Linked DNA regions of Homo sapiens. The protein of the gene in region 7 purifies or fractionates together with the protein of the main gene of each other region. This does not show direct contact. Each region holds a gene or a part of one and is shown on either strand. Other genes may lie near its edges.

Region 1 (3,500 bases), on a different chromosome or scaffold from region 7:
TTTTCCAAAGGCAGTTTCATATTCCTTACTGATGGGCCCTTCTTATGTTGCTTTATTGTTAGTGGAAGATGGAACTTCTGTAAAAACACTGGAAACACTCCAGCAAAGAGTGAAGCGTCAAGAGAACCTACTTAAGCGTTGTAAGGAAACAATTCAGTCACATAAGGAACAATGTACACTATTAACTAGTGAAAAAGAAGCTCTGCAAGAACAACTGGATGAAAGACTTCAAGAACTAGAAAAGATAAAGGTAAAAGAGCAGATGAGTTTTGTTCTAATTTAATCTATAAAGTTAGATCCACAGGCTCCACAGCATGGCTTGTACCTCCGGGAGAGGAGAGTGGATGGAAAGGGCATTTTTGTTTGCCCTGGCCTACATAACACCAAACCTTGAGACTTACTGTGTACTTTTTTCCTTCTGCACTGTAACATGTATATAAATTAGATAAATGTTTAGAGTTCTCAAATGAGAAGAAGCTTTATTAGAGATGGAAATGAATTTAAAAATTTTTTTTAGGACCTTCATATGGCCGAGAAGACTAAACTTATCACTCAGTTGCGTGATGCAAAGAACTTAATTGAACAGCTTGAACAAGATAAGGTAAAACAACAAAACCTATGATACTAAAATTTGTCAAGAGGCCCCAACATTTACTTTTGGAAACAGTTGGAAACATTCATGCTTGTTTCTGTTTTCTAAAAATTATTGCAGCTTTTTCCATGAAAAATCTTTAATTTCTAGATTTTTGTAACTACTAGCATTAGTTTTGTGTCATGTAAAACTGATTCTCTGATTTCTTGATCCCAGTCAGCATTATGATTTGTAGACTAGAATAACTGTTGCAAAGGAAGTTTATATTTATAGTACATAACTACTTTACAGAGAAAAGTTATTTATAGTTAAGGCATTATAAATGTGAATGATATCAGTATGTTCTTTCAGATAATATGGAAACAGATTAATCTCTCAGATAAGTTGCCTAACAAATAAATAAGGGGCTGGGCACAGTGGCTCATGCCTTTAATCTCAGCACTTTGGGAGGCTGAGGCGGGAGGATTGCTTGAAGCCAGAAGTTCAAGATCAACCTGGGCAGTAAAGCAAGACCTCCTCTCTACAAAAAAAAAAAAAAATTAGCTGGGTATGTTGGTATATGCCTGTGGTCCCAGCTACTCGGGAGGCTGAGGCAGGAGGATTGCTTGAGCCCAGGAGTTAGAGGCTACAGTGAGCTATGGTCACACTAGTGTACTGCAGCCTGGGTGACAGGGTGAGACCCTGTCTCTTAAAAAAACAACAAACAAAAATAAGTGATAATGTATATATTAGCATAAATAAAAATGTCTACAAATGAATTTTAGAATGTGTAGATGAGATTAGAGGATTGAGGAAGGAATGAGTCTTACCTTTGGTAGTTTGGAGTTGGAGCAGCAGCTAAAGCTACGCAGCAAAGACAACCAGAAAATTCATGGGTAAACAGTTTTGACCTGTCTTTCAGCTCCAAGTTCTTGGGTCCTTTTTCTAAGCAGCTCCCAGTTTGTTCCATAGCATCCACCATTTTCTTTAATATGCCGGGTTATCACTAGAGTATTTTAAGTGGTCACGTAATTAAGAACATGTCAGAGCTGTCCTGCTGTTAAAATGTATTGGCAATCTTTTTCATCCTTTTGATAATACTGCTTTGCTAGATTATACACTTCTTGAGGGCCTACTTAAATTGTTTTTTTTTTTAAATATTATAATGAAGAACTTAAAACATTTACAAAAGAAAAGCTGCTAAAATGAATTTCTTTGAACCCACCACCCCGCTTCAACAGTTAACATCTCATGACTAATCTTGTTTCATCTGTACCTTCTCAACTGTCATTGTCCTACTCACCCAGAATTGTTTTAGAGCAAATCCAAGAAATTTTATCATTTTTTTCCAAAAGTATTTTAATATATCTTTAAAATAAAAGACATTATTTTTACAATACTATAACCACATTATCATGATCACATCTAAAAATTTAATAATTTTAAAATATGACCTGCTATCTAGTCAGTTTCAGATTTTCTCTAGTTTCTCATATATTTTTTGCTCTTTTATGAATCAGGGTCCAAATAAAGTTTTTTCATTGCAATTGGTTGATATGACTCTTAAGATTTCTTTTAATTTACTGGTTTGATTATCTTCTCTCCTTCTCTTTCCACTATATTTTGGTTTTTGAAGAAACTGAAAGCCCATGATTTTGTTTTGAGATTTCATATAGCAGTGCCTCACTTACGTGGTTGTTATCTCTCTGTCTCTCCATTAATATTAGCCATCTGGAAGAGTCATATTCTAAAGCAAGGGTTGGCAAACCCTGTGGAGAGGGTGCTAATCTTAAGACCATGAAATTGTTGTCACAAAGTCTGAACATTTTTTCAAGAGACAAGTGAACCACCTCATTTTTTGTTAGTCCTAAATGACTTTTTTACTGTATACCATTTAGTTGTCTTTTTCCCCTGCCGACCTCCATTTCTAGTGTAGATTATCCAGAAAGAGGGAACAGAAGTAACTAGCAAGTTGGAGGAATGGAGATGCCTTACAAAGTAAGGAATAGTGGTGGTACCAGAGACAGTCACAGGAAGAAAGAGAAGAACCAGGTAGATGTGTCCTGGGATTTTGCTTTATCCAGTGTGGCAGCAGGCACCTTCCATTCTCAAGTGTCTGGGGTTATCCCCATGTTATAGTACAGATCAATACTTGTAGTTTATTGTAGTGCCAAGCCAGGTTCAGAAGACTATATTTTGTTCATTATAAACTGTTTACTAAGACAGATAGCACATTTGTAGAAAGGCTATAAAATAAATCTTTTAAGTAATAATGTTTTAATGCTTTAAGGATTAAACTATTAAAATTTTTAATGTAAAAAATACTGTTATGCTAGGTAATAGGATTAGAGCAGAAAACAGACCTCAGTTTGTGAAGTATTGAAATAATTGTTATGCTGTACTTAGCAAGAAATATCATTTTTTCTGCCTTTTATTTTTTGTTTTTTAATTTTTAATTTTTTTTTGAGACGGAGTCTCACTCTGTCACCCAGGCTGGAGTGCAATGGCGTGATCTCAGCTCACTTCAACCTCTGCCCCCTGGGTTCAAGCAATTCTCCTGCCTCAGCCTCCTGAGTAGCTGGGATTACAGGCATATACCACCATGCCTGGCTAATTTTTGTATTTTTAGTAGAGACAGGGTTTCGCCATGTTGGCCAGGCTGGTCTCGAACTCCTGATCTCAGGTGATCCACCCTCCTTGGCCTCCCAAAGTGCTGGGATTATGGACATGAGTCACCATGCACCATGCCCGGCCTTTTTCTGCCTTTTAAATTAAGTTTTATCTGTGCTGTTGATGATGCAGTTTTGTTATGCAAATGTTTTAGAGTCTTCACTTCTATTCAGGGAATGGTAATCGCAGAGACAAAACGTCAGATGCATGAAACCCTGGAAATGAAAGAAGAAGAAATTGCTCAACTCCGTAGTCGCAT
Region 2 (3,035 bases), on a different chromosome or scaffold from region 7:
TTCAGACTACACAAAAATTTCCCAGGGAGGATTTCCCAGGGAGGAACTAACCTGGAGTAAGGGATGTGCTGCACCTCCAGGGAAGTGATCAATTGTACTAGGAAAGTTGTCTCAAAATGCAGGAGCTAGGCTAGTGTATGACATTATGTCTCAGAGAGGACGAGTTCCTCAAACTGCCCAAGGTGAATCACAACCTCATGCCGATTTTCAGAATTCAACCTTTCCTTTGTCCTTTCCACCTCTCTGATAGTACTAAAACCTGGATGCTATAACTCAACTACTAATTCCACATTTCATGCTTGACTTTTACTATCTTTATAATCAACACTCTCCACCATAGTCTTACCTTTAATGCCTTTCATGAAATGGGATAAAATGCTACCACTAGTGGGTGTCAGAACCACCTGAACTGAATATTAATTTTCCAGATGTTTGGATTAACATTGGTCCTCCTTCCCTAATAAGGACAGAGGTGCAAAAGAACCTTCATATGAAGTGGCTTTGAATCTTGAATATTCATGTTTATTGTCCATTTTTTACTTCAGAATGACTGGTGTTTTTAGGAGTGGGTGGAGCTTGGAAATTGAGAAAGGGAAGAGAACAAGGCAGGGACCAAACAGGGACATGGCCAAGACAAGACAGTTGTACAGCTGACTCTCAGGCCTTCGTGGAAACCATATGGCAGGAAGGCTTTGGGGGCATTTACCCTTTGCCAGCTAGACTCCAGTCCTGCACTGGATTCAACACTGGATCCCATCTGATGGAAACTTGGAGAAGCCCATGCATGACTCAGCGTTCTCCAGTGGGGAGACTGCCCATGTTGCTGACTCTGCCTTGCTTTGCAGGCAGAAGCAAGAGACTGAAGACTTTTTCTCTAGAATAAATAAGCCCAATTACTTGAAAATCAAGTAGTACAATAAACCTAGCCAAAAGTGGTCTCTCCTAAATCAGCTTAGGTATATGCCTTCTCCAGGAAGATCTCCCTTATTTGCTGACCCCACCTCTACACCGCTAAGCTGGGTTAGGCACTTCATGCTTTGTTCTCTCAGCTCCTAGCCAATAGCCCTATCACACACAGCACTTACGCAGTAGGATCTGTTTCAGTACCTCAGTAAAGGAGAGCTGCTTGTTTGTGCCTTTGGCAGTCTGCTGAAACCTATGAACCAATTCTTAAATAATGTTTTTCAATGCATAAAATACATAAAATTACAAAAAAAAACAATTATAATGAAATGTGTAGTTTTGGTTTTCTGAGCTGGGGATGTTGCCCTGTTACCTGGGCTAGAGTACAGTGGCAAAGTCATAGCTCACTACAGCCTTGAACTCCTAGGCCCAAGCAAAATCCTCTTGCCTCAGCATCCTGAGTAATTGTGTCTACAAGTGCGAGCCACAAGACTTGACTAATTTTTACATTTTTTTATAGAGATGGGGTCTGGCTATGTTGACCAGGCTAGTCTTAAACTCTTGGCCTCAAGCAATTCTGCCTCAGCTTCTGAAAGTGCTGGGATTCTAGGTGTGAGCCACCATGCCTGGCTGAAATATGTATTTCTTAACTCCAGACATCTGGAGTATGAATTCCTTAAGTGCAAGGACTATGTCTTCATCTCTCTACTGTCAGTGCCTAGCACAAAGCCTGGCACATAGATGGTTCTTAAAAATGTTTATTCAATGCATGAACAGAAAGACAAATGCCTACTACCAAGTCAGCCTAAGGTTCATTGCAACTGCTTATGCACATACCAATGGCTTGCATATGTCTCACCCCATCTAGGATCATCTAGACCAGGGCTGTAAGGGAACCTACATTCAACAACAGGTGCCATAATATCTAACAATAATGACAGGCTATTGGAAGACCAGGAAAACAACAAAGCTCATGTATTTCACCAGCTGGAAAATTCATCTAGTAAACAGGCTGTTTGAGGAAATCTCTTGACATTGGAAGCATGATGCACACACGACCTTAAAACCCTACCAATAGCTCTGATGGAGGAAAGAAGGGAACCTGAGCTAGCACGTTGGTATTCACGAGGGCTCTTCTGTCCTGAATTGGTCCTCTCATCTCTGGGAAAGAGAAAAGTGTCCCTAAAAACCACAATAGGGATGAGATGTGCCTTCCTAGATTCAAGTAGATTCAGTCTGAGACAGCAATTTTGTTTTTATGTACCAACAGAAAACCTAAACAAGCAGGAAATAAAAGCTACTTCCCTCACTAAAGATATATTAAGGGCCAAATATTTGTTCTAAATTGATTGCTAAGTCTATTAGATATTTTGAAAAGAAAAATAAAACCCCAGACTATTTAAAAACTGAAATCTACAACTGTATGGAGTTCATAAATCTCATTCTTAAGAGTCACCTTCAGGCTGGGTGCGGTGGCTCATGCCTGTAATCCCAACACTTTGGGAGGCCAAGGCGGGCGGATCGCTTGAGGTCAGGAGTTCAAGACCAGCCTGGCCAACATGGCAAAACCCCGTCTCTACTAAAAATACAAAAATTACCCGGGCGTGGTGGTGGGAGCCTGTAATCCCAGCTACTCAGGAGGCTGAGGCAGGAGAATCACTTGAACCAAGGAGGCGGAGGTTGCAGTGAGCTGAGATCACACCATTGCACTCCAGCCTGGGCTACAGAGCAAGACTCCATCTCAAAAAGAAAAAAAAAAAAAAAACAGCAACCTTACCATGTTACAGGGTTTCTTTGACTACATACAGCCATCTGAGGGATGGAGAATGCAACTTTTACTTGCTCGATGGGGTTTCCAACATCTGTTGGAAGAAACATGGCTTCTGAAAGGTGCCTTCTTAAAAATAAAAAAGAAAAAAAAAAACTACAGGTCCAAGTTTTGTTTTTAATAAAAATATTCCTCCCACTCTTAAGGTGTGTGCTTTCTTTTTTGACCTATTTTTCCTTAAATTTGTCTGTAGTTTCCCTGTATCTCTATATTTTTCCTAGTGCAGTAAACAATGCAATCAAAGAAATAAAAACCAGGGTCCACTCTTGCCCCAAACACTGAAGAGGGTCAAAGAGAAGAAATC
Region 3 (3,500 bases), on a different chromosome or scaffold from region 7:
GATCCACCCGCCTCGGCCTCCCAAAGTGCTGGGATTACAGGCGTGAGCCACCGCGCCCGGCCCAGTGTCAGTTTTTTACTATCACATCTGGTATACACAGGGAGCTGCTACCTGCCCAGAGTTGGGTCCCAGGGCCTGGCTCGGAGACACAACAGTCACCCCTCATGCATTTGCCAAAGGAGAGTTTCACAGCCTTGATCATCATCAGAGCAACTGGAAGCTCAAGAAAGTGGAGGATTTGATGTCGTGCCCCTCTCTGATCTTTTTTTTTTTTTTTTAAGATAGTCTTGCTGTGGCAGTGGCATGATCACAGTGCACTGCAGCCTCAATCTCCTGGGCTCAAACAATCCTCCTGCCTCAGCCTCCCAAGTAGCTGGGACTGCAGGCATGCACCACTACACCCAGTTCATTTTTTGTTTTGTAGAGATGGGATCTCACTTTGTTAACTAGGCTGGTCTTAAACTCCTGGTTTCAAGCCATCCTTTAGCCTCAGCCTCCTAAAGTGCTGTGATCACAGGCGGGAGCCATTGTGCCTGGCCCCCTCTCTTGAAACCATCTCTGGTCTTGGCTCCTGGGGAGGAGGGGCACACTGTGGGGTTTGCCTCCTAGCCTCTGGCCTTCTTGGCTGTCTCTGCTGATTCCCTGGCCTCCACCCAGGCCTGTTCTCATCTCATTCCACACTTTCTTCCACAGATGATAGGCTCATCCGTGAGCAAGACTTTGGTCAGTGACAGATCCTGAAGACTCGCAGGCCTCCATCTCCTGTGATGGTCTGGCTCTGAGCTCCAGCCCCACCAATTCACTAACTTCCCCCTCATCTCCACTGTATCCTGCCGACACCCCACACCATGCCCCAGACAACTCCAAACAGACCTCCCAACCCAAGTACCCTGCCTGAAGAAATTACAGGAGTCAGCCATGGGTTTCTCCCCTCCCTCACCCCCAAATCCTGTAGACGTGCCTGCTCAATTAGTTCGGAAATGTGTCCATTTGCCTCCATCTCAAAGCCCCAATCATCTCTGGCACCGATGAGTACGTGCACCTTTTCCTGGCGGGTCACCTGATTCACTCTCACCACCCTGCCCTCCATTCTCTCTGCCCAGCAATCAGAGTGACTGTGAAAAATGCAAATCAGAGCACGTCACTCCCTTATTTGAAATCTTCCGTGGCTTGGCCGGGCGAGGTGGCTCACACTTGTAATCTCAGCACTTTGGGAGGCCAAGGAGGGCAGATTGCTTGAGGCCAGGAGTTCAAGACCAGCCTGAGCGGCATGGTGAAACCCCATCTCTACTAAAAATACAAAAATTAACTGGGTTTGGTAGTACATGCCTGTAGTCTCAGCTACCTGGGAGGCTGAGGCAGGAGAATCGCTTGAACCTGGGAGGCAGAGGTTGCAGTGAGCCGAGATCACGCCTCTGCACTCCAGCCTGTGCGACAGAGCGAGACTCCATCTCAAAAAAAAACAAAAACAAAACAGAAAAAAACCTCAGAATCCTAAGTCCTCAACATGTCCACAAAGCCGCACAAGGCCAGTGAGACCAGGCCTCCCCCCATTCTCCATCCTTGTCCTATAGCTCCTCTGTGCCCCCCTCTTGCCTGTCCTCTCCAGCCCGATGTGCAGCCTCCTTTCTGCCTCAGGGCCTTTGCATATTCTTTGTTTGTTTGTTTTGTTTTGAGAGGATTCTCGCTCTGTTGCCCAGGCTGGAGTACAGTGGTGCAATCTTGGCTCACTGCAACCTCTGCCTCCTGGGTTCAAGAGATTCTCCTGCCTCAGCCTCCTAAGTACCTGGGATTACAGGCACCCACCACCACATGTAGCTAATTTGTGTATTTTTAATAGAGATGGGGTTTCACCATGTTGGCCAGGGTGGTCTTGAACTCCTGACCTCAGGTGATCCACCCGTCTCGGCCTCGTAAAGTGCTGAGATTACAGGCATGAACCACTGCACCTGACCTGTTTGTTTGTTTTGTTTTTGAGACAAGGTCTCATTCTGTTGCCCAGGCTGGAGTGCATTGGCATGCTCATGGCTCACTGCAACCTTGAACTCCTGGGATCCAGTAATCCTCCCACATCAGCCTTCTGACTAGCTGGGACTACAGGTGTGCACCATCCTGCCTGGCTAATTTTTTTTTTTTTTTTTTTGGTAGAAATGGGGTCTCACTGTGCTGCCCAGGCTGGTCTCAAACTCCTGAGTTCAAGTGATCTTCCTGCTTCGGTGCCTCAATCCAAGCACTTCCTCCCAAAGTGCTGGGATTACAGGCGTGAGCTGCCGTGCCAGGCTGGCCTTTGCACATTCTCCTTCCTTCCTCTCCTCTTCCTGCAATTTCACTAATGCTAATGCCTGCACAGCCTTTACTAAGCAGCTGAAATGTCATTTTTTTTTTTTTGGAGAAACTTTCCCTAATGCCCTATCCTTTACCTTCATGCCACTTACTGTTCCTTTATACATTTATCACAACCAAGATTAAATAATCATGTGCATTTCTCTTGCTAGAATATAAGCCCCATGAAGACAAGCCAGGGATGTGTCCCTCTCTCCTCCTCTCCTCCTCTCTCTCCCCCTCCCCCTTCCCCTCCCCCTTCCCCTCCTTCTCCCTGTTTTCTGTACTGTTCTGTTCTGTTCTGTTCTGTTCTGTTCTGTTCTGTTCTGTTCTGTTCTGTTCTGAGTCAGGGTCCAACTCTGTCACCCAGGCTGAAATACAGTAATGCGATCACGGCTCACTGAAGCCCCCGCCTCCCAGTCTCAGGTGATTCTCCCACCTCAGCCTCCTGAGTAACTGAGACTATAGCCGCATCCCACTACGCCCAGCTAATTTTTTAAATTTTTTGTAGAGATGGGGTTTTGCCATGTTGCCAGGATGGTCTCAAACTCCAAGTGATCCACCCACCTTGGCCTCCCAAAGTGCTGGGATTACAGGAGTGAGTCACTGTGCCTGGCTGTGCCTTTCTGATTTATCATGATTTCCCCATCATCTAGCATAATGCCTGGCACATTTTAAGCACCTATTCAGTACGTATGAATTTGTGAGCTGACCCACGGTCTCGGGTGGGAAATGGTGGGATTGAGACTAGAACTCAGACGAGCCTGAATCCACGGCTCTCCTGTTCCATTCTTGCCATCTTCCCAACCACTGGAAGAAAGTCATTTGCATGAAAGATGGACTCCCAGGCATCTGTTCCCTGAACCTGAACTTGCAGGTGAGCACAAGAGAGCTATTATTGGAGGTATCAAGACTGGTAGAAGCTGGGCGCGGTGGCTCATGCCTGTAATCCCAGCACTTTGGGAGGTCGAGGTGGGCGAATAACGAGGTCAGGAAGATCGAGGCCATCCTGGCTAACATGGTGAAACCCTGTCTCTACTAAAAAGACAAAAAATTAGCTGGGCGTGGTGCCGGGTGCCTGTTGTCCCAGCTACTCATGAGGCTGAGGCAGGAGAATGGCATAAACCTGGGAGGCCGAGCTTGCAGTGAGCCCAGATCGCACCACTGTACTCCAGCCT
Region 4 (4,274 bases), on a different chromosome or scaffold from region 7:
CGCCCTCCTGGGCTGGCCCCCGGTCACCCGCGGGTGAGCTCTGGGAGTTCGGGCTCAGGACCCGGGAGGGGGGTCTGGCAGGTCCCGACGCAGCCCGGGGACAGGGGCAGGGCCAAGGGGCAGGGCCGGGGCGCATGCAAACACCGAGGGGGAGCGGGCAACACGGAGGGGGGCGCCGGCGCGCGCGCGCGGCGGGGGCGCGCGGGGGCGGGACCGGGAAGGGCAGTCACGGGCGCCGGAGCAGCACGTGCTCGATGTAATTCTCCAGCTCCTCCTGCTCCTGCAGCCGGCGCTCCTCCGCCTCCGCCTCCTCCTGCGCGCGCCGCGCCTGGGCCTCCCGGCCGGGATAGTGGCGCGAAGGCGGCAAGGCGTGGTGGTAGTGGCGGCGGCGCAAGGCCGAGGGCGGCTGCAGTGTCCGCGGCCGGATGTAGTTGGGGAAAGGGTGGTACGGCCCTGGCGGGTACACCTCGTCCTCCTCCCGATCCCAGGGCGGGAGCACCTCGTTCCAGTCCGGCAGCTCGTCTCGTGCGGGAGCGGGGGCGGGGGGCGGGGGCTGCGGGGAGCGGACGTGGGTGGGGGCGGGGGCGGCACGGGGGGGCGGCACGGGCTCGGGAGGGGCGTTCTTCTTCCGCTTCCGCTTCTCCTCCACCTCCTCGATGATGCTGACCACGTCGTCCGCTGGCAGGTGGAGTTTGGTGGACAGCTCAATGAGGCTGTCGATCGTCTGCGGATCCATCTCCTCGTCGTCCTCCTCCTCCCCGCCCTCCTCTGTCCCCTCGGCCTCCTTCCGCCGGTGGCCCGGCGTCTCCTCCTGGGAGCGCTTGTCCTCGGCGCCGGCTTCCCCGTCCTCCTCCTCCGCGAACAGGAGCGCGTTCTGCCGCGCCCTCTCCGCCTCCTCCGCCTCTGCCTCCGCCTCGGCCGCCTCCTCATCCTCTTCCCCCACCCTCTCCTCCCCGCCGCGTCTCTCCTGCTCCGCCTCCTCCTCCTCCCTTGCACTCTCTCGCTCCTCCGCCGCCTCCTGCAGCCCCCGACCCCCGAGGCCGCGCTGCCGGGCCCCGCCCTGCAGCAAATACTGGAGCAGCAGGTCCGAGGCGAGGTCGGCCAGCCGCTCTTCCTGCGCCGCGGCCTGCCGCGTGGCCTCCGCCTGCCGCCGCCCGGCCTCCACCTGCGCCAGCCCTTGCTGGAGAAGGCGCTCGCCCGCCTCGGAGCCGCCCAGGAGTGCGCTCTCCGGCCGGCGCGCCTTGGGGAACGGGGCGGCCACGCCTTGGTACGCCTTGGACAGGGGTGCCAATGCCTCGCCTAGGTGTGTTTTGGGGGAGGACACTCCTTCCCCGAACTTGTGGGTTTCGGGAAGGGGCCCGCTGTCGGGCATACGCGCCTGGAATTGAGAGGGGGCCGGGGGCGGCAGGGGCGCGCGCTCCGGGACACGCGCCTGGAACTCTCCCCAGGAAGCGCGCCATACGCGCTCTGGCCCCGGGCTCTCCAGATTCACTCGGGTCAGCGTGTGCGTGCGGGTTTCCGTCTCTGCTGCCGCCGTCTCCTGCTGGCGCTTGGCGCTACTTGGACTGAAATCTCGCAGTTCCTGGAGCAGGGACGCTAGCGCCTCGAGCTCCTCGGAGGGATCGCTCGCCTCGGGCCCATTCTCCGGAGTCTGAGGGCGAGGCGGAGCCGCGGGCTCCGGGCTCTCCGGCGCCGGGAGGCTGTGGGTCTGGCTGCGCACGGTCTCGGTCAGCAGAGCTTCAGCTGCTTCTTCCTCCGGCCCCTGCTGGGAGCCGCTTGGTGCCGGGGGTGAGGCGGGACGGTCGAGTGCCTGCAGCAGCACCGCGGCCAGCGCCCGGGGATCCACGCCCTGGAAAAGCTCTCCCTCGTCCTGCGGCTCGGAATTCCGAGCGCCTCGGACCTCTGGGGCGCTGCCATCCTTTGGCCCGGGCACTGCGTCCCCGGCTACCGGCTCTTTATGCTCAGAGCTGAGAGGAGGAGGCTGCGCCTCAGGGCGACCAGGGGGTGCTGCCCCTAACCCGTTGATCAGCAGAAGGCAGAAGAGGGCGGAAGCCGACAATCTGAGGGCTTTCATGACCAAGAGGCTGCCGGAGACTGAAAAATAGAAGGGACCAAAAAAAGAGGATTTCTGTAAGAATTCCCCTCTCTAGGTCTACGTTCCCTTCCCCCACCTTTCAGCAGGAAACCCGGGGCTTCCCTGATCCCCCAAACCTTACCCAGAAGAGGAACGTTTAGGAGCAAAGGAGGAAGATGTTGTGCCGATCTCTGGAGCCGTGTAAATGGGAAAATAACCCCCGAAGCCCTCGCTTACCCAGGGCCTCCTCGGCCCCTTCCCTGAGCCATCTCACTGCCATCGCCCACGTACTAAGCAGCAGCAATATGGGGGAAAAAAAAATCTCTGCTCCCTCCCCGTAGGACTCCCCGGATGGTGCGTGGGCGACTTCAGCAGCAAGAGAAAAAGCTGCGACTCCCCCGTTTACCGGGGACCCTTACCAGGGGGCTCCCCGCTGTGTTTGCAACACCCCCATCGAGAGGAGAGAGAACCCTCCCTCACGCCCACGGCTGGCTGCCGAGGGTTTGAGGGACGAACAGCGGAGTATTTACCAGCTGGTGTCACGACGCGAGAGGTGGAGAGGAGGGTCGGGGCAGGGTGGGGACAGGGGAAGATCGGGACGCGTCCGCCTCGGCTCCGAGCGGTGGCCGGGGTAGGAGCGACGGTCGAGGTCTGGCGTCCCGTGGGCTGGGCTCAGCTGGGTCGGCGCGGCTCCGGGCGGCTAGCTCGCTCCGGCTTCAGCACGCTGGACAGCGCCCGCGCCTCCACCGCCTTATAAAGGGGAGCGCGCGGGGTCACGTGGGCGCGCCCCGCCCCATTGACGTCAATGTTCATTCATGGGGAAGCGGGCGGCCGCCCGGAGGAGGAAGGACGCCCGACGATTGGAGGGTGCCTGCCTCTCCCGGCCTGCGCCTGCGCGCTGGGGCCTTCGGCTGAAGGGGTGTGCGCTAGCGGAGCTCCGGGAAATGAATGAATGAATGAATGAATGAAATGCTGAAGCGGGCAGGGCGGGGGGCTATGAATGAATGAAGGAGGGACGAGGAGAAAAGGATGAATGAATGAATGGGAGAATGAATGGAAGGGTGGATGCAGAGGCGCTGGAAGGCGGGAGGGTGGGTTGCAGAGCAACTTGGAGCTGCTGGATGGAGCCCGCGTTGCTGAGTGGAATAGAAAAAGGGTAGTCCCAGCGTCTGACTGGGCACCAGTGGGAGCTCAATACTGGGGAGGGGAAGGATAAAGATTCAAGAGCCGACCAGGGGGCCGGGTTCCCCACCCCGAGACCACGCGCCCAAGGACGGCGTGAACCTGAGTGCAGAGGGACAGATCTGCACGCCTGCGGGCGCTGTCCGCGAATCGGCAGTGCGGGTGGCAGCCCCCTGACAGGGGCAGATGGGTGGATCTTGCGGTTTTGGTAATCCCATCGGGAAGGGTCCGAGTCGGAAGAGAAAAGGGAAAGAATGAGGATGTGTGTGCCTCTGGGTCGTGTCTGTTTCACGATCCGTGCTGTGTCTGGAGAAAAAGGTGTGTCTGTCCTTCTGTCCCCTGACTGCCGCTTGTGTCAAGGCCCCCCGCTGTGCCCCCTTCGGCCCATCTCTTCCCACACTCCCCCAGTCGCTTTCCCTCCTGCCGCTCCCCTCCCCCAAGGACGTTTGGAGGGCGAGACCAGAGCAGGTGGGGAGGGGGTTGCGCAGGTGGGGGGGGGGTGACTCAACTCCAGCTCTCTCCACCGCTTAAAGGGAAGGTTTGAACGCGATGGGAGGGGGACCTGCAACGTCAGAGATAGCCCCTCTCTGCCACCAGCCCCTTCGACCGTATCTCCTGCCAGAGAGGTTGGGGCTGGGGGCTTGGACAGCTAGAGGTTCCGGGGGTGGGGGGCGATGACGCACAGATTTGCGCAAAGAGAATCCATCAGAGAGCTGGGTCCGGTGAAGGGAGACCAGCCGTGGGCGGGGGTGGGGGGGAGGACGGAAATGGGGAGGGGGCAGGGGAGAGGAGAGGGTGGCAAGGGGGGCAGCCACTGCAGGAATGAAGGGGAGGGAGGGAGGAAGCCTGGAGGGGGCTGCGGTGCTGGCAGAGAGCGGTGCGGGGGCGTGGGCAGGGAAGGGGGGAATGACAATGACACACGCCAGACACACACGAACTGCGGACATAGGGGTGCTCGTGGGCACACGCAGGGCACCCGCACCCTGAGACTCTGGAAACCAAGGTCAGGGCTGTCTGT
Region 5 (3,500 bases), on a different chromosome or scaffold from region 7:
AAAAATATTCAGGGAATGTTGCAGTGAATTTGCCTGACTCCAGCGAATGGTGCCTGTGAAGTCCAGGAGCATAGAGCTGGTGTAAGGAAGCTCAAAACCCATTTGCAGAGAGAAAGAAGATAATGCCTCCGAATGAGGTAAAATGTTGGCTGTTGGTTCTCAGCAGGGTGTTGAGGGCATTATGAAGCAAGTGCAGGAGCGTCTGGAACGGAAGTGGTGGGCCCTTGGGGGTCAGCGTGGGTTTGGTAACACTCAGTCATGTCACACTGATTTCCAAGCCTTGGTGGTAACAGTCAATAAACTGCAGATCAGGGAGGTGTTACAGACATTGAACACTTACGATAAAATCTGAAACTTATAAGCAATCAAGAAGAGGAACCATGATCCAGGTGCAAGTACAATTAGGTGGCTTGCTAGGTGTCTGGACAATTGGCTCTGTGACACCACTTTGCTGGCAGGCTGGCACAAGGCCCTATGGACACTGCACTGATTTCGGCCTTCAGCTGTGTCCTGCCCATTGCTTCTATTGATGAGAGGGGCAAAAAGAGAGGAGGCAAGTTCATTAGATCTGAAGATGTCAAGAAGCCTAAAAAGATAATTAATATATTGGATGACAGAATCAATGTACAAATATTCTGGACAGAATCAAGCAATGGGTAAATCTAATGTTGTAAAATTCAGTAGGGAAAATAGAAGCTTCTCCACATAGCTTTAAATAAGCAGGCCGCGTGCATTGGCTCACACCTGTAATCCCAGCACTTTGGGAGGCCAAGGCAGGCGGATCACTTGAGGTCAGGAGTTTGAGACCAGCATGGCCAACATGGTGAAACCTTGTCTCTACCAAAAATATAAAAAAATTAGCTGGGTGTGGTGGCACACATCTGTAATCCCAGCTACTCAAGAGGCTGAAGCAAGAGAATCACTTGAACCTGGGAGACAGAGTTTGCAGAGAGCTGAGATTGTGCCACTGCACTCCAGCCTGGGTGACAGAGCAAGACTCCGTCTCAAAAATAAAAAATAAAAATACAAAAATAAATAAGCAACTACACAGATATAAGATGAAAGTGCAGCAGCAGCAAAAATCTTAAGAATTTTATTTGCTAGTAATCTCACCAAGAGGCTAGTTAATCAGTACTATGTGGGCGCAGACATCCAGCCAGCTGGAAAGCCAGCCAGCTCTGCTCACCTCTGGGTACTCTCCACCGTGGTCACTAAGGCTTTCCAACCCAATAATAGATAGAGCGCGGAGGCACCGGACACAGGGGACAGCACTTGTCGGCAGAATCATGGCCCCATGTCACGCTTGTGGTTAGCGGAATCATGGCCCCCTGCCCAGGCCCTGACACAGGCACCAGAACCTGTGTACGTGTTGCCTTACACAGCAAAAGGGATTTTGCATATGCAATGAAGTCAAAGATCTAAGGGCCTGGAGGTAAGCAGAGATCATGCTGGATTATCTAGTTGGACCCACTGCAATCACGAGTCCCTAGAGGTGAAGAGTCCTTCTCCCTGGAGACGGGAGAAGAAAAGATTCAAAGGTGAGAGATTCAATGTATTGTTGCTGGAGTTGCAGACAGAAGAGGGGGCCACAAGCCGAGCCATGTGGTTGCCCTGAGAAGCTAAAAAGGCCCTCTGCTGACAGCCAACGTGAATATGAGGATCTCAGTCCTACAGTCACAAAGAACTGAACTCTGCCCATGACTGGATTGGGCGAGGACCAGATCTCCTTGTAAACATGCAAATAGTACTTACTAGTGGAAAGAAGCCTGGGAACCCCTATCTAAAAGCACAGAATAGCTGGGCACAGTGGCTCACACCTGTAATCGCAGAACCTTGGGAGGCTGAGGTGGGTGGATCACTTGAGGCCAGGAGTTTGAGAACAGCCCAGCCAACATGGGATGCATCTCTCTGCCTAGTGTTTTTGTTATTGAATCATTAGTAAAGTTTGACATTAGGTAAGATCTATAGATCCTATGGATGTCTGCTTTGAAGATTCAAATCCTTGCATTAACACAATCTCTGTATTATTCTAATGCATACTTCAATTTAGGAGCTGTTTCTTCTTAGGGAATTCATGCATCCAGCATCTAAAAGTGAGTTCCAAGAGATGCTCTGGGTAAAAAGAAGGGAGGGAGACAGACAGGGGTGGGAAATGATTTCTCTGTGGCTAGTATATTAAGACATTAATAAGATGCTAACTACATCCTTCCCTAGTTTATTCCTATTAGAGCTTGTTTATCAGTGGCCCTTCAGAGCCCTGCTGGAATAACTCACTATTTCCCAAACCTTCTCACTCACAGAACCTTTTCAGTTCCTGTTCTTTGGAAACACTTTGGGAAATTTTTGAGGCCAGGAGTTCCAAGCTGCAGTGTGTGATTATCGTGTCTGTGAATGGCCACGGCACTCCAGCCTGGGCAACATAGCAAGACCTCATCTCTTTAAAAAAGGTAGTTTATTTATATGATGATATAAATCATATAATCTGACTATATAATCTATATAATTATAGATGTATGATTATATAAACCATATGATCAATAAGTTGACTGTATTAGTCCGTTCTCACACTGCTAATAAAGACATACTTGAGACTGAGTAATTTATAAAGGAAAGAGGTTTAATTGACTCAGTTCAGCATGGCTGGGGAGGCCTCAGGAAACTGACAATCATGTCAGAAGGGGAAGCAAACACATCCTTCTTCACATGATGGCAGGAAGGAGAAGAATGAGTGCCCAGCGAAGAGGGAAGCCCCCTGTAAAACCATCAGATCCCGTGAGAACTCACTCACTATCACGAGAACAGGATACTGCCCCATGATTCAATTATCTCCACCTGGTCCCTCCCACCACACGTGGGGATTATGGGAACTGCAATTCAAGATGAGATTTGGATGGGGACACAGCCAAAGAATATCACTAACCTAGAGGACTCTTCATTCATTCATCCAAAGACAGGTCTGAGCAGCTCCTAGGGGCCAATCCCTATTCGAGGCAACAGCAGAGGGAAGACAAGAAGATGGCTACATGCACCCACCACCTGACTGCAGCAGCTCACAGGCCCCCCAGGGCTGGCATTGCCTGACCCAGGGAATGTGGCAAGGGGTGCCACCAAGGCAAACACAGGAGGAATCTTTAGACGGTGTGCTGGTCCCCACACCAGCCTCTGACTTGAAGTGCCTCCATTCCCCTAGCAAATGCATGAAACAAAAGTTGTGCAGGCCTCACGTCTGATTGATTCTCTTCTCTTTGTGGACATACGTTAGACTTAGAAATAAACTCGTATTAAAAGATATTTTTAATGGCTTTTTCTTCCCTTACTTAGAGGCAAATAATGATAAGCTATACTTCAGTATGTATTTTAGGCTTGAAATCATATAAATAAACTACCTTTTTTTAGAGATGGGGTCTTGCTATGTTGCCCAGGCTATAGTGCAGTGGCCATTCACAGGCACGATAATAGCACACTGCAGCCTCAAACTCCTGGCCTCAAGCTATCCTACC
Region 6 (3,500 bases), on a different chromosome or scaffold from region 7:
AACCAGCAGCCATATTGAAAACGTCCCCTTAGAGGCCGAGGCCAGTGGGTCACTTGAGGTCAGGAGTTCAAGACCAGTCTGGCCAACATGGTGAAATCCCATCTCTACTAAAAATACAAAAATTAGTCGGGTGTGGTCGCACGTGCCTGTGGAGGCTGAGGCAGGAGAATCGCTGGAACCTGGGAAGTAGACATTGCAGTGAGCCGAGATGGTGCCACTGCACTCCCGCCTGTGTGACACAGCAAGACTTTGTCTCAAAAAAAGAAAAAAGAAAACATCCCCTTAGAGAAGAACCCATGTCAATGCCTAGAGATCACTGCTTCTATTTCTTTTTCTTTTTTTTGAGACGGAGTCTCACTCTGTCACCCAGGCTGGAGTGCAGTGACACAATCTCAGCTCACTGCAGCCTCCGCCTTTTGGGTGCAAGCGATTGTCCTGCCTCAGTCTCCAAGTAGCTGGGGTTGCAGGTGCGTGCCGCCATGCCCGGCTAATTTTTGTGGGGTTTTTGTTGGTTTTGTTTTTTTTTTCTGAGGTGGAGTCTTGCTCTGTTGCCCAGGCTGGAGTGCAGCGGCACGATCATGGCTCATTGCAACCTCTGTTTCCCAGGTTCAGGCAATTCTCCCATCTCAGTCTCCGGAGTAGCTGGGATTACAGGCACGTGCCACCACACCTGGCTAATTTTTGTATTTTTAGTAGAGAAGAGGTTTCACCATGTTGGCCAGGCTGGTCTCCAACTCCTGACCTCAGGTGATCCACCCGCCTCGGCCTCCCAAAGTGCTGAGATTACAGGCATGAGCCACTGTGACTGGCCCACTGCTTCTATTTCTAAGTACTCACTAGCCAGGCTGCTAATGATACACTAGAATACTGACACAGAAGTTGGCACAAAATAACCCTCCTTGCCACAAAGAACATGAGGCATGTAGCAGTTTGGCACCAGCAGAAAGAGGAAGTCCTCTCTCATGTCAGGCACGTCCTCCATTCACCCTGGCAACACATGCTCCCTCAGACTACCATTTCTTCGGGCAGGTTTCTTCTTCCACCAACCCTATCTCCAACCCCTTCCCTCTCTGTCTCCACCTCCTTCCACCGAGACCTCTGGCACTCTGTTTCATGAAAAACAAACCTCTCTGAACGTTCCTCACACTCCTGGGTTTAATCAGAACTTGGCTGTCCCTAGAGAGCATGAGTACGACGTGAAGGTACTCAGTGGCCCTCACCCGCACCCTCCAATCTTGAAGACAAACGTAGGCCCTCCTCATTCTTCATTGACATCTCCCTATCATTAGTTCTCTCTTTATAAACCCATCCTCTGAGGAACAAGCAATGGCATTAACTCATCTCAAATTGCCGACAGCCATTAAAAAATAATATTGTAGAAGAATGATTGATGAAAAAGCATCCAGACTTAATGAATGGCCGGGCACAGTGGCTCATGCCTGTAATCCCAGCACTTTGGGAGGCCAAGGCGGGCCAAGGTGACCTCATCACCTGAGGTCAGGAGTTTGTGATCAGCCTGGCCCACATGGTGAAACCCTGTCTCTACTAAAAACAAGAAATTAGCCAGGCCTGGTGGCAGACACCTGTAATCCCAGCTACTCAGGAAGATGAAGTAGGAGAATTGCTTGAACCCAGGAGGCAGAGGTTGCAGTGATCCGAGGTTGTGCCATTGCACTCCAGCCTGGGTGACAAGCATGAAACTCCATCTCAAAAAAAAAAAACAAAAAACACTTAATGAATGACCACAACATATAAAGCATGCACCTACATTGTTACACTGTGTATGTACATATGAGTAGTTTATAATATATATTTCATCTTATAGTATATGTATTAGTATATGTAATTATATATACTTATATATATGCACACATATATTTTTCATAAACAAAAGAAACTGATCAAAAATTTAAGTGATAATCCTATGTAGAAATTGCCGACTTGTTCTTTTTTCTTCCTTTTTTTTTTTTTTTTTTTTATCAGAAACAGGGTCTGGCTGGCTGGGCTTGGTGGCTCACGTCTGTAATCCTAGCACTTTGGGAGGCGGAGGCAGGAGGATCACAAGGTCAGGAGATCGAGACTATCTTGGCTAACACGGTGAAACCGTCTCTACTAAAAATACAAAAAATTAGCCGGGCGTGGTGGCGGGCACCTGTAGTCCCAGCTACTCGGGAGGCTGAGGTAGGAGAATGGCGTAAACCCGGGAGGCGGAGCTTGCAGTGAGCTGAGATCGCGTCACCGCGCTCCAGCCTGGGCGACACAGCAAAACTCCGTCCCGAGAAAAAAAGAAACAGGGTCTGGCTATATTACCCAGGCTGGACTCATACTCCTGGGCTCGAGAGATCCTCCTGCCTCAGCCTCCCAAGTAGCTGGGATTACAGGTGCACGTCATCACACCCAGGCAGATTTGCTATTTTTTGCTTACTGTATTCTCACAGTTTTCCACAGTGAACATGTACAATAAAGCTCTTTTTTTTTGAGACAGAGTCTCGCTCTGTTGCCAAGGCTGGAGTGCAGTGGCACCATCTCGGCTCACTGCAACCTCTGCCTCCTGGGTTCAAGCGATTCTCCTGCCTCAGCCTCCCAAGTAGCTGGGACTACAGGCCTGTGCCACCACATCCAGCTAATTTTTTGTATTTTAGTAGAGACGGGGTTTCACCGTGTTAGCCAGGATAGTCTGTATCTCCTGACCTCGTGATCCGCCCACCGCGGCCTCCCAAAGTGCTGGGATTACAGGCGTGAGCCACCGCACTCGGCAATAAAGCTCTTTCGAATGCAGCCATTTAGCGGACTTGCTGCCTGATGCACTCACTCTAAAAGCTTTGGTTTGTGGCTTCTCTCTAGCATATGCAGCACTGCTCTCATCAGTTGACTTTGTGCTTATAAGAATCAGTTCTATTTGTCCCTAAGACTGTTGCTGTGGGAAAAAGTAAAATTAGGGGAAGAAATCAGAAAAATCTAGAGATTTTGCATTCAGATTGCTTTATTTTCTTTTTCCTTTTTTTTTTTTGAGACAGAGTCTCGCTCTGTCAAAATTGTTTTAAAAGAAAAAACAAAAGAAGTAAAAAAAAGAAGTAAAATAAAAATAAATGGAATTAACTGATCAAGTTCCAATTTCAAATGCTCTAGATAAAACGTACTTCAACTGTATTACCTTTATAATAAAGAATGAAATTAAAAGATTTAATTCTTTTTCCCTGGAAGGATAGAAAAATAAATAAAAATAAAATTTAAAAGAATGAGAGCACAGCAATAGAATTATTCATAAAATACTTCCTATTACTGGATGGCCATTGTGGCTCACACCTGTAATCACTTTGGGAGGCTGGGGCAGGAGGACCTCTTGAGGTCAAGGGTTTGAGACCAGCCTGGGCAACAGAGTGAGACCCTGTCTCTACAAAAAATACAAAAATTGGATGGGCGCAGTGGCTCATGCCTGTAATCCCAGCACTTTGGTAGACCGAGGCGGACGGATCACAAGGTCAGGAGATCGAGACCAT
Region 7 (3,500 bases):
AGGCACATGCCACCATGCCCAGCTAATTTTTATATTAAAGAGGGTGATTTTCTATCATATCCCTTTTCTCTCCTAGAAAATATAATTTGACATCATGCCCAAGAAATATGAAATATGTACTTAGTTGCATTTGTTACCAAGGCAAGTCCCTCAAATGCTCAGGACTCCTTTGTGATTCTTTGTGCTGGTGTTTGAGTTGGCAGGAATACAGCCCTAGGGTCTTCTGGGCCTGGAGGTGACATGTATACCTTTCTAGCTCCCTCTAAGATCCAAAAGCTCTCCAACATCTGTAACTATAGAGACAGCTACATTTTGCTTTGGATATAGGCTGAGACTTTTTCAGTCTCCAGGTCCCCATTTGAGTCCCACACATATTACAGATGTTTCCTGTAGCATTTTATATATTGGATGTAGACCTTTTACAAAAGACAGAATTTCTTGGTGTGTTATGGTAGAGCAAGTGTGGGACTCTGATAGAACTGAGTTCAGGCCCGGCGCGGTAGCTCACGCCTGTAATCTCAGCACTTTGGGAGGCCGAGGCGGGCAGATCAGGAGGTCAGGAGCTCGAGACCATCCTGGCTAACACGGTGAAACTCCGTCTCTACTAAAAAAAAAAAAAATACAAAAAATTAGCCGGGCATGGTGGCGGATGCCTGTAGTCCCAGCTGCTCGGGAGGCTGAAGCAGGAGAATGGCGTGAACCCGGGAGGCGGAGCTTGCAAAGTGAGCCGAGATCGCGCCACTGCACTCTGGGCTGGGAGCCACAGCGAGACTCCGTCTCAAAAAAAAAAAAAAAAAAAAAAAAAAAGAACTGAGTTCAAACTCCTGCTCTGCTACGCACATATGCTATAACCTGCAGGAAAGGATTTAAATGTGCAGAGCTTCAGTTTCCTCATCTAAAAGTAGAGATACTTCCGCTCACTTCCCAAGCTTGAGTGAAGACACCAGGGATGGCAGTGCCCAGGGCAATGATGCTGCCCATTGAGGGTGCTCAATTAATGCATCTGCTTCTATAAAACCCAGGTTCATCCTTAAAAGAAATAAGCTTCTATACATCTATCTAGGTGGTGAAATTTTATTCTCCAGTCAGAGGAGTGGGAATTAGAAAGATCTTGGTGTTACTGAAAGAGTTTAAATTCCAACTCAGCCATTTCTTAGGCATGTCACTTTATCTGTCTCTCTCTCTCTCTCTTTCTCTCTCTCTTTCTTTGCCTTATTCTGTAACCCAGGCTGGAGTTGCAGTGGTGTGATCTTGACTCACTGCAACCTCAACCGCTGCAGGCTCAGTATATCCTCCCACCTAAGCTTCTCAGGTAGCTGGGACTATAGGCATACGCCACCACACCCGACTAATTTTTTTTTGTATTTTTTTGTAGAGACAGGGTTTTGCCATGTTGCCCAGGCTGGTCTCAAACTCCTGGGCTCAAGCAATCCACCTGCCCCAGCCTGCTAAAGTGTTGGGATTACAGGCATGAGCCACCGAGCCTGGCTAGCCATGTCTCTTTTAAAAAGTTACTTAATCCATCCCTACTTCAATTCTCTTACCTGTAAAATGCGGAAATTAATATTTGTTTAGCATTTACTGTTTAGTAGGGACTGTTATTACTGCTACTGAAATGTAATAGTATTGTCTTTTTTTTTTTTTCATTTCTTTCTTTCTTTTTTTTTTTTTTCAAGATATGGTCTTACTCTTTTACCCAGGCTAGAGTGCAATGGCACGATCATAGTTCATTGCAGCCTCAAACTCCTGGGCTCAAGCAATCCTCCTGCCTTGGCTTCCCAAAGTGCTAGGGTTACAGGCCTTACAGCCACTGTGCTCAGCCTAATTTTTTTTAATTTTTAATTTATTTTATTTTATTATTATTATTTTTTAAGATGAAGTCTCGCTTTGTCAACCAGGCTGGAGTGCAGTGGCATGATCTCAGCTCACTGCATCCTCCGCCTCCTGGTTCAAGTGATTCTCCTGTCTCAGCCTCCTGAGTAGCTGGGATTATAGGTCCCCACCACGACACCTGGCTTTATTTATTTATTTATTTATTTTTAGTAGAGATGGGATTTCACCATGTTGGCCAGGCTGGTCTAGAACTCCTACCCTCAAGTGATCCACCCACCTTGGTCTCCCAAAGTGCTGGGATTACAAGCGTGAGCCACTGCACCCCTGGCTGATTTTTTGTAGAGACAGGATATTGCTTTGTTTCCCAGTCTGGTCACAAACTCCTGGGCTCAAGCAATCCTCCTACCTCGATTTCCCAAACTGCTGAGGTTACAGGTGTTAGCTGCTGCACATGGCCTGCCTACTTTCTTTTATTGGCCACATTTTCTGGGAAATCTGGCACACCTGGACTCTGGCATCTAGTGGGAATGAATGTTAGCAGATGTTAGGGGGAGCGATAGTGAGCAAAGTAGAAGAGGGTTCAGAGAGGATATTTGAAGGCCTCCAAAACAAATTGACCTCTTTTTTTTCTTCTTTTTTTTTAATATGGAGCCTTGCTCTGTCACCCAGGCTGGAGTGCAGTGGTGCAATCTCAGCTCACTGCAACCTTCACCTCCTGGGTTCAAGCGATTCTCCTGCCTCAACCTCCTGAGGAGCTGGGATTACAGGTCCCCACCACCATACCCGGCTAATTTTTCAGATTTTTAGTAGAGATGGGGTTTTACCCCATGTTGGCCAGGCTGGTTTCGAACTCCTGACCTCAAGTGATCCGCCCGCCTTGGCCTCCCAAAGTGCTGGGATTACAGGCATGAGCCACACTGCACCCAGCCTGACTCCATTCTTGTGCTTACAGCTTTTAAATCTTGGGGATTTTGGACTGTCTTGGCAAATCCTAAGTATCATCTTCATTCTTCCTTGATGTTTGTGAGTATGAGATCCCTGCCCAAAACTATGCTGGCCCCCCTGGGGATTGGAGTTTGGAAACTGACTTCACTCAGCCCCAGAGTCAAGGTCAGAAGCCCCTCTACCTGGATATTTTAAGTGCCTGCATTCTCTCTGGCCCAGAAACCAGGACGTGGACCACGCCAGAAGTGACCAGCCCCCCACCATCCCCAAGAACATTCCACACATCATCGGCAGCCATTGGAAACCAGCTATATGTCTTTGGGGGCGGAGAGAGAGGTGCCCAGCCCGTGCAGGACACGAAGCTGCATGTGTTTGACGCAAGTATGGACTGGTGGGCACCTTGGGGCTGGTCAGGGCCATCCCAGTTTACACATTACCTAATATAGGAAGCAGAAGTTAGAAAAGGAAAGCCTGACTAAGTGTCTCACTTCTAGACTTCTTTGTTATATCTCTTAGCTGATATCTTTTTCCCACAGCAAAATTGGCATTTAAAAAGGGATAGTGAGGCCTGGCATGGTGGCTCACACCTGTAATCCCAGAGCTTTGGAAGGCTGAGGCAGGTGGACCGCTTAAGGTCAGGAGTTCGAGAACAGCCTGGCCAACATACCTTTTCTCTACTAAAAACACAAAAATTATCCGGGCATGATGGTATGCACCTGTAA

The links.
Region 1: the proteins of RABEPK (region 7) and GOLGA4 purify together in Homo sapiens (affinity purification with mass spectrometry; one large-scale study listed by BioGRID and IntAct). This does not show direct contact.
Region 2: the proteins of RABEPK (region 7) and GMEB1 purify together in Homo sapiens (affinity purification with mass spectrometry; one large-scale study listed by BioGRID and IntAct). This does not show direct contact.
Region 3: the proteins of RABEPK (region 7) and TRIOBP purify together in Homo sapiens (affinity purification with mass spectrometry; one large-scale study listed by BioGRID and IntAct). This does not show direct contact.
Region 4: the proteins of RABEPK (region 7) and VGF purify together in Homo sapiens (co-immunoprecipitation; one large-scale study listed by IntAct). This does not show direct contact.
Region 5: the proteins of RABEPK (region 7) and CCR6 purify together in Homo sapiens (co-immunoprecipitation; one large-scale study listed by IntAct). This does not show direct contact.
Region 6: the proteins of RABEPK (region 7) and DHTKD1 fractionate together in Homo sapiens (co-fractionation; one large-scale study listed by BioGRID). This does not show direct contact.

What each region holds. Positions count from the first base shown.
Region 1 is NC_000003.12:37,298,771-37,302,270, forward strand, and holds part of GOLGA4 (golgin subfamily A member 4), read left to right. Parts: intron 1-62; coding exon 63-250; intron 251-517; coding exon 518-601; intron 602-3,414; coding exon 3,415-3,500. UniProt on the Homo sapiens protein: Involved in vesicular trafficking at the Golgi apparatus level. May play a role in delivery of transport vesicles containing GPI-linked proteins from the trans-Golgi network through its interaction with MACF1. Involved in endosome-to-Golgi trafficking.
Region 2 is NC_000001.11:28,716,819-28,719,853, reverse strand, and holds the end of GMEB1 (glucocorticoid modulatory element-binding protein 1), read right to left. Parts: 3' UTR 501-3,035; downstream 1-500. UniProt on the Homo sapiens protein: Trans-acting factor that binds to glucocorticoid modulatory elements (GME) present in the TAT (tyrosine aminotransferase) promoter and increases sensitivity to low concentrations of glucocorticoids. Also binds to the transferrin receptor promoter.
Region 3 is NC_000022.11:37,703,548-37,707,047, reverse strand, and holds part of TRIOBP (TRIO and F-actin-binding protein), read right to left. Parts: intron 1-3,500.
Region 4 is NC_000007.14:101,162,770-101,167,043, forward strand, and holds the start of VGF (neurosecretory protein VGF precursor), read right to left. Parts: upstream 2,801-4,274; 5' UTR 2,605-2,800; exon of another isoform or gene 2,217-2,604; intron 2,095-2,216; 5' UTR 2,075-2,094; coding exon 227-2,074; 3' UTR 1-226.
Region 5 is NC_000006.12:167,126,096-167,129,595, reverse strand, and holds part of CCR6 (C-C chemokine receptor type 6), read right to left. Parts: intron 3,292-3,500; exon of another isoform or gene 2,951-3,291; intron 2,448-2,950; exon of another isoform or gene 2,269-2,447; intron 1-2,268. UniProt on the Homo sapiens protein: Receptor for the C-C type chemokine CCL20. Binds to CCL20 and subsequently transduces a signal by increasing the intracellular calcium ion levels.
Region 6 is NC_000010.11:12,075,454-12,078,953, reverse strand, and holds part of DHTKD1 (2-oxoadipate dehydrogenase complex component E1), read right to left. Parts: intron 1-3,500. UniProt on the Homo sapiens protein: 2-oxoadipate dehydrogenase (E1a) component of the 2-oxoadipate dehydrogenase complex (OADHC). Participates in the first step, rate limiting for the overall conversion of 2-oxoadipate (alpha-ketoadipate) to glutaryl-CoA and CO(2) catalyzed by the whole OADHC.
Region 7 is NC_000009.12:125,217,542-125,221,041, forward strand, and holds part of RABEPK (rab9 effector protein with kelch motifs), read left to right. Parts: intron 1-2,997; coding exon 2,998-3,159; intron 3,160-3,500. UniProt on the Homo sapiens protein: Rab9 effector required for endosome to trans-Golgi network (TGN) transport.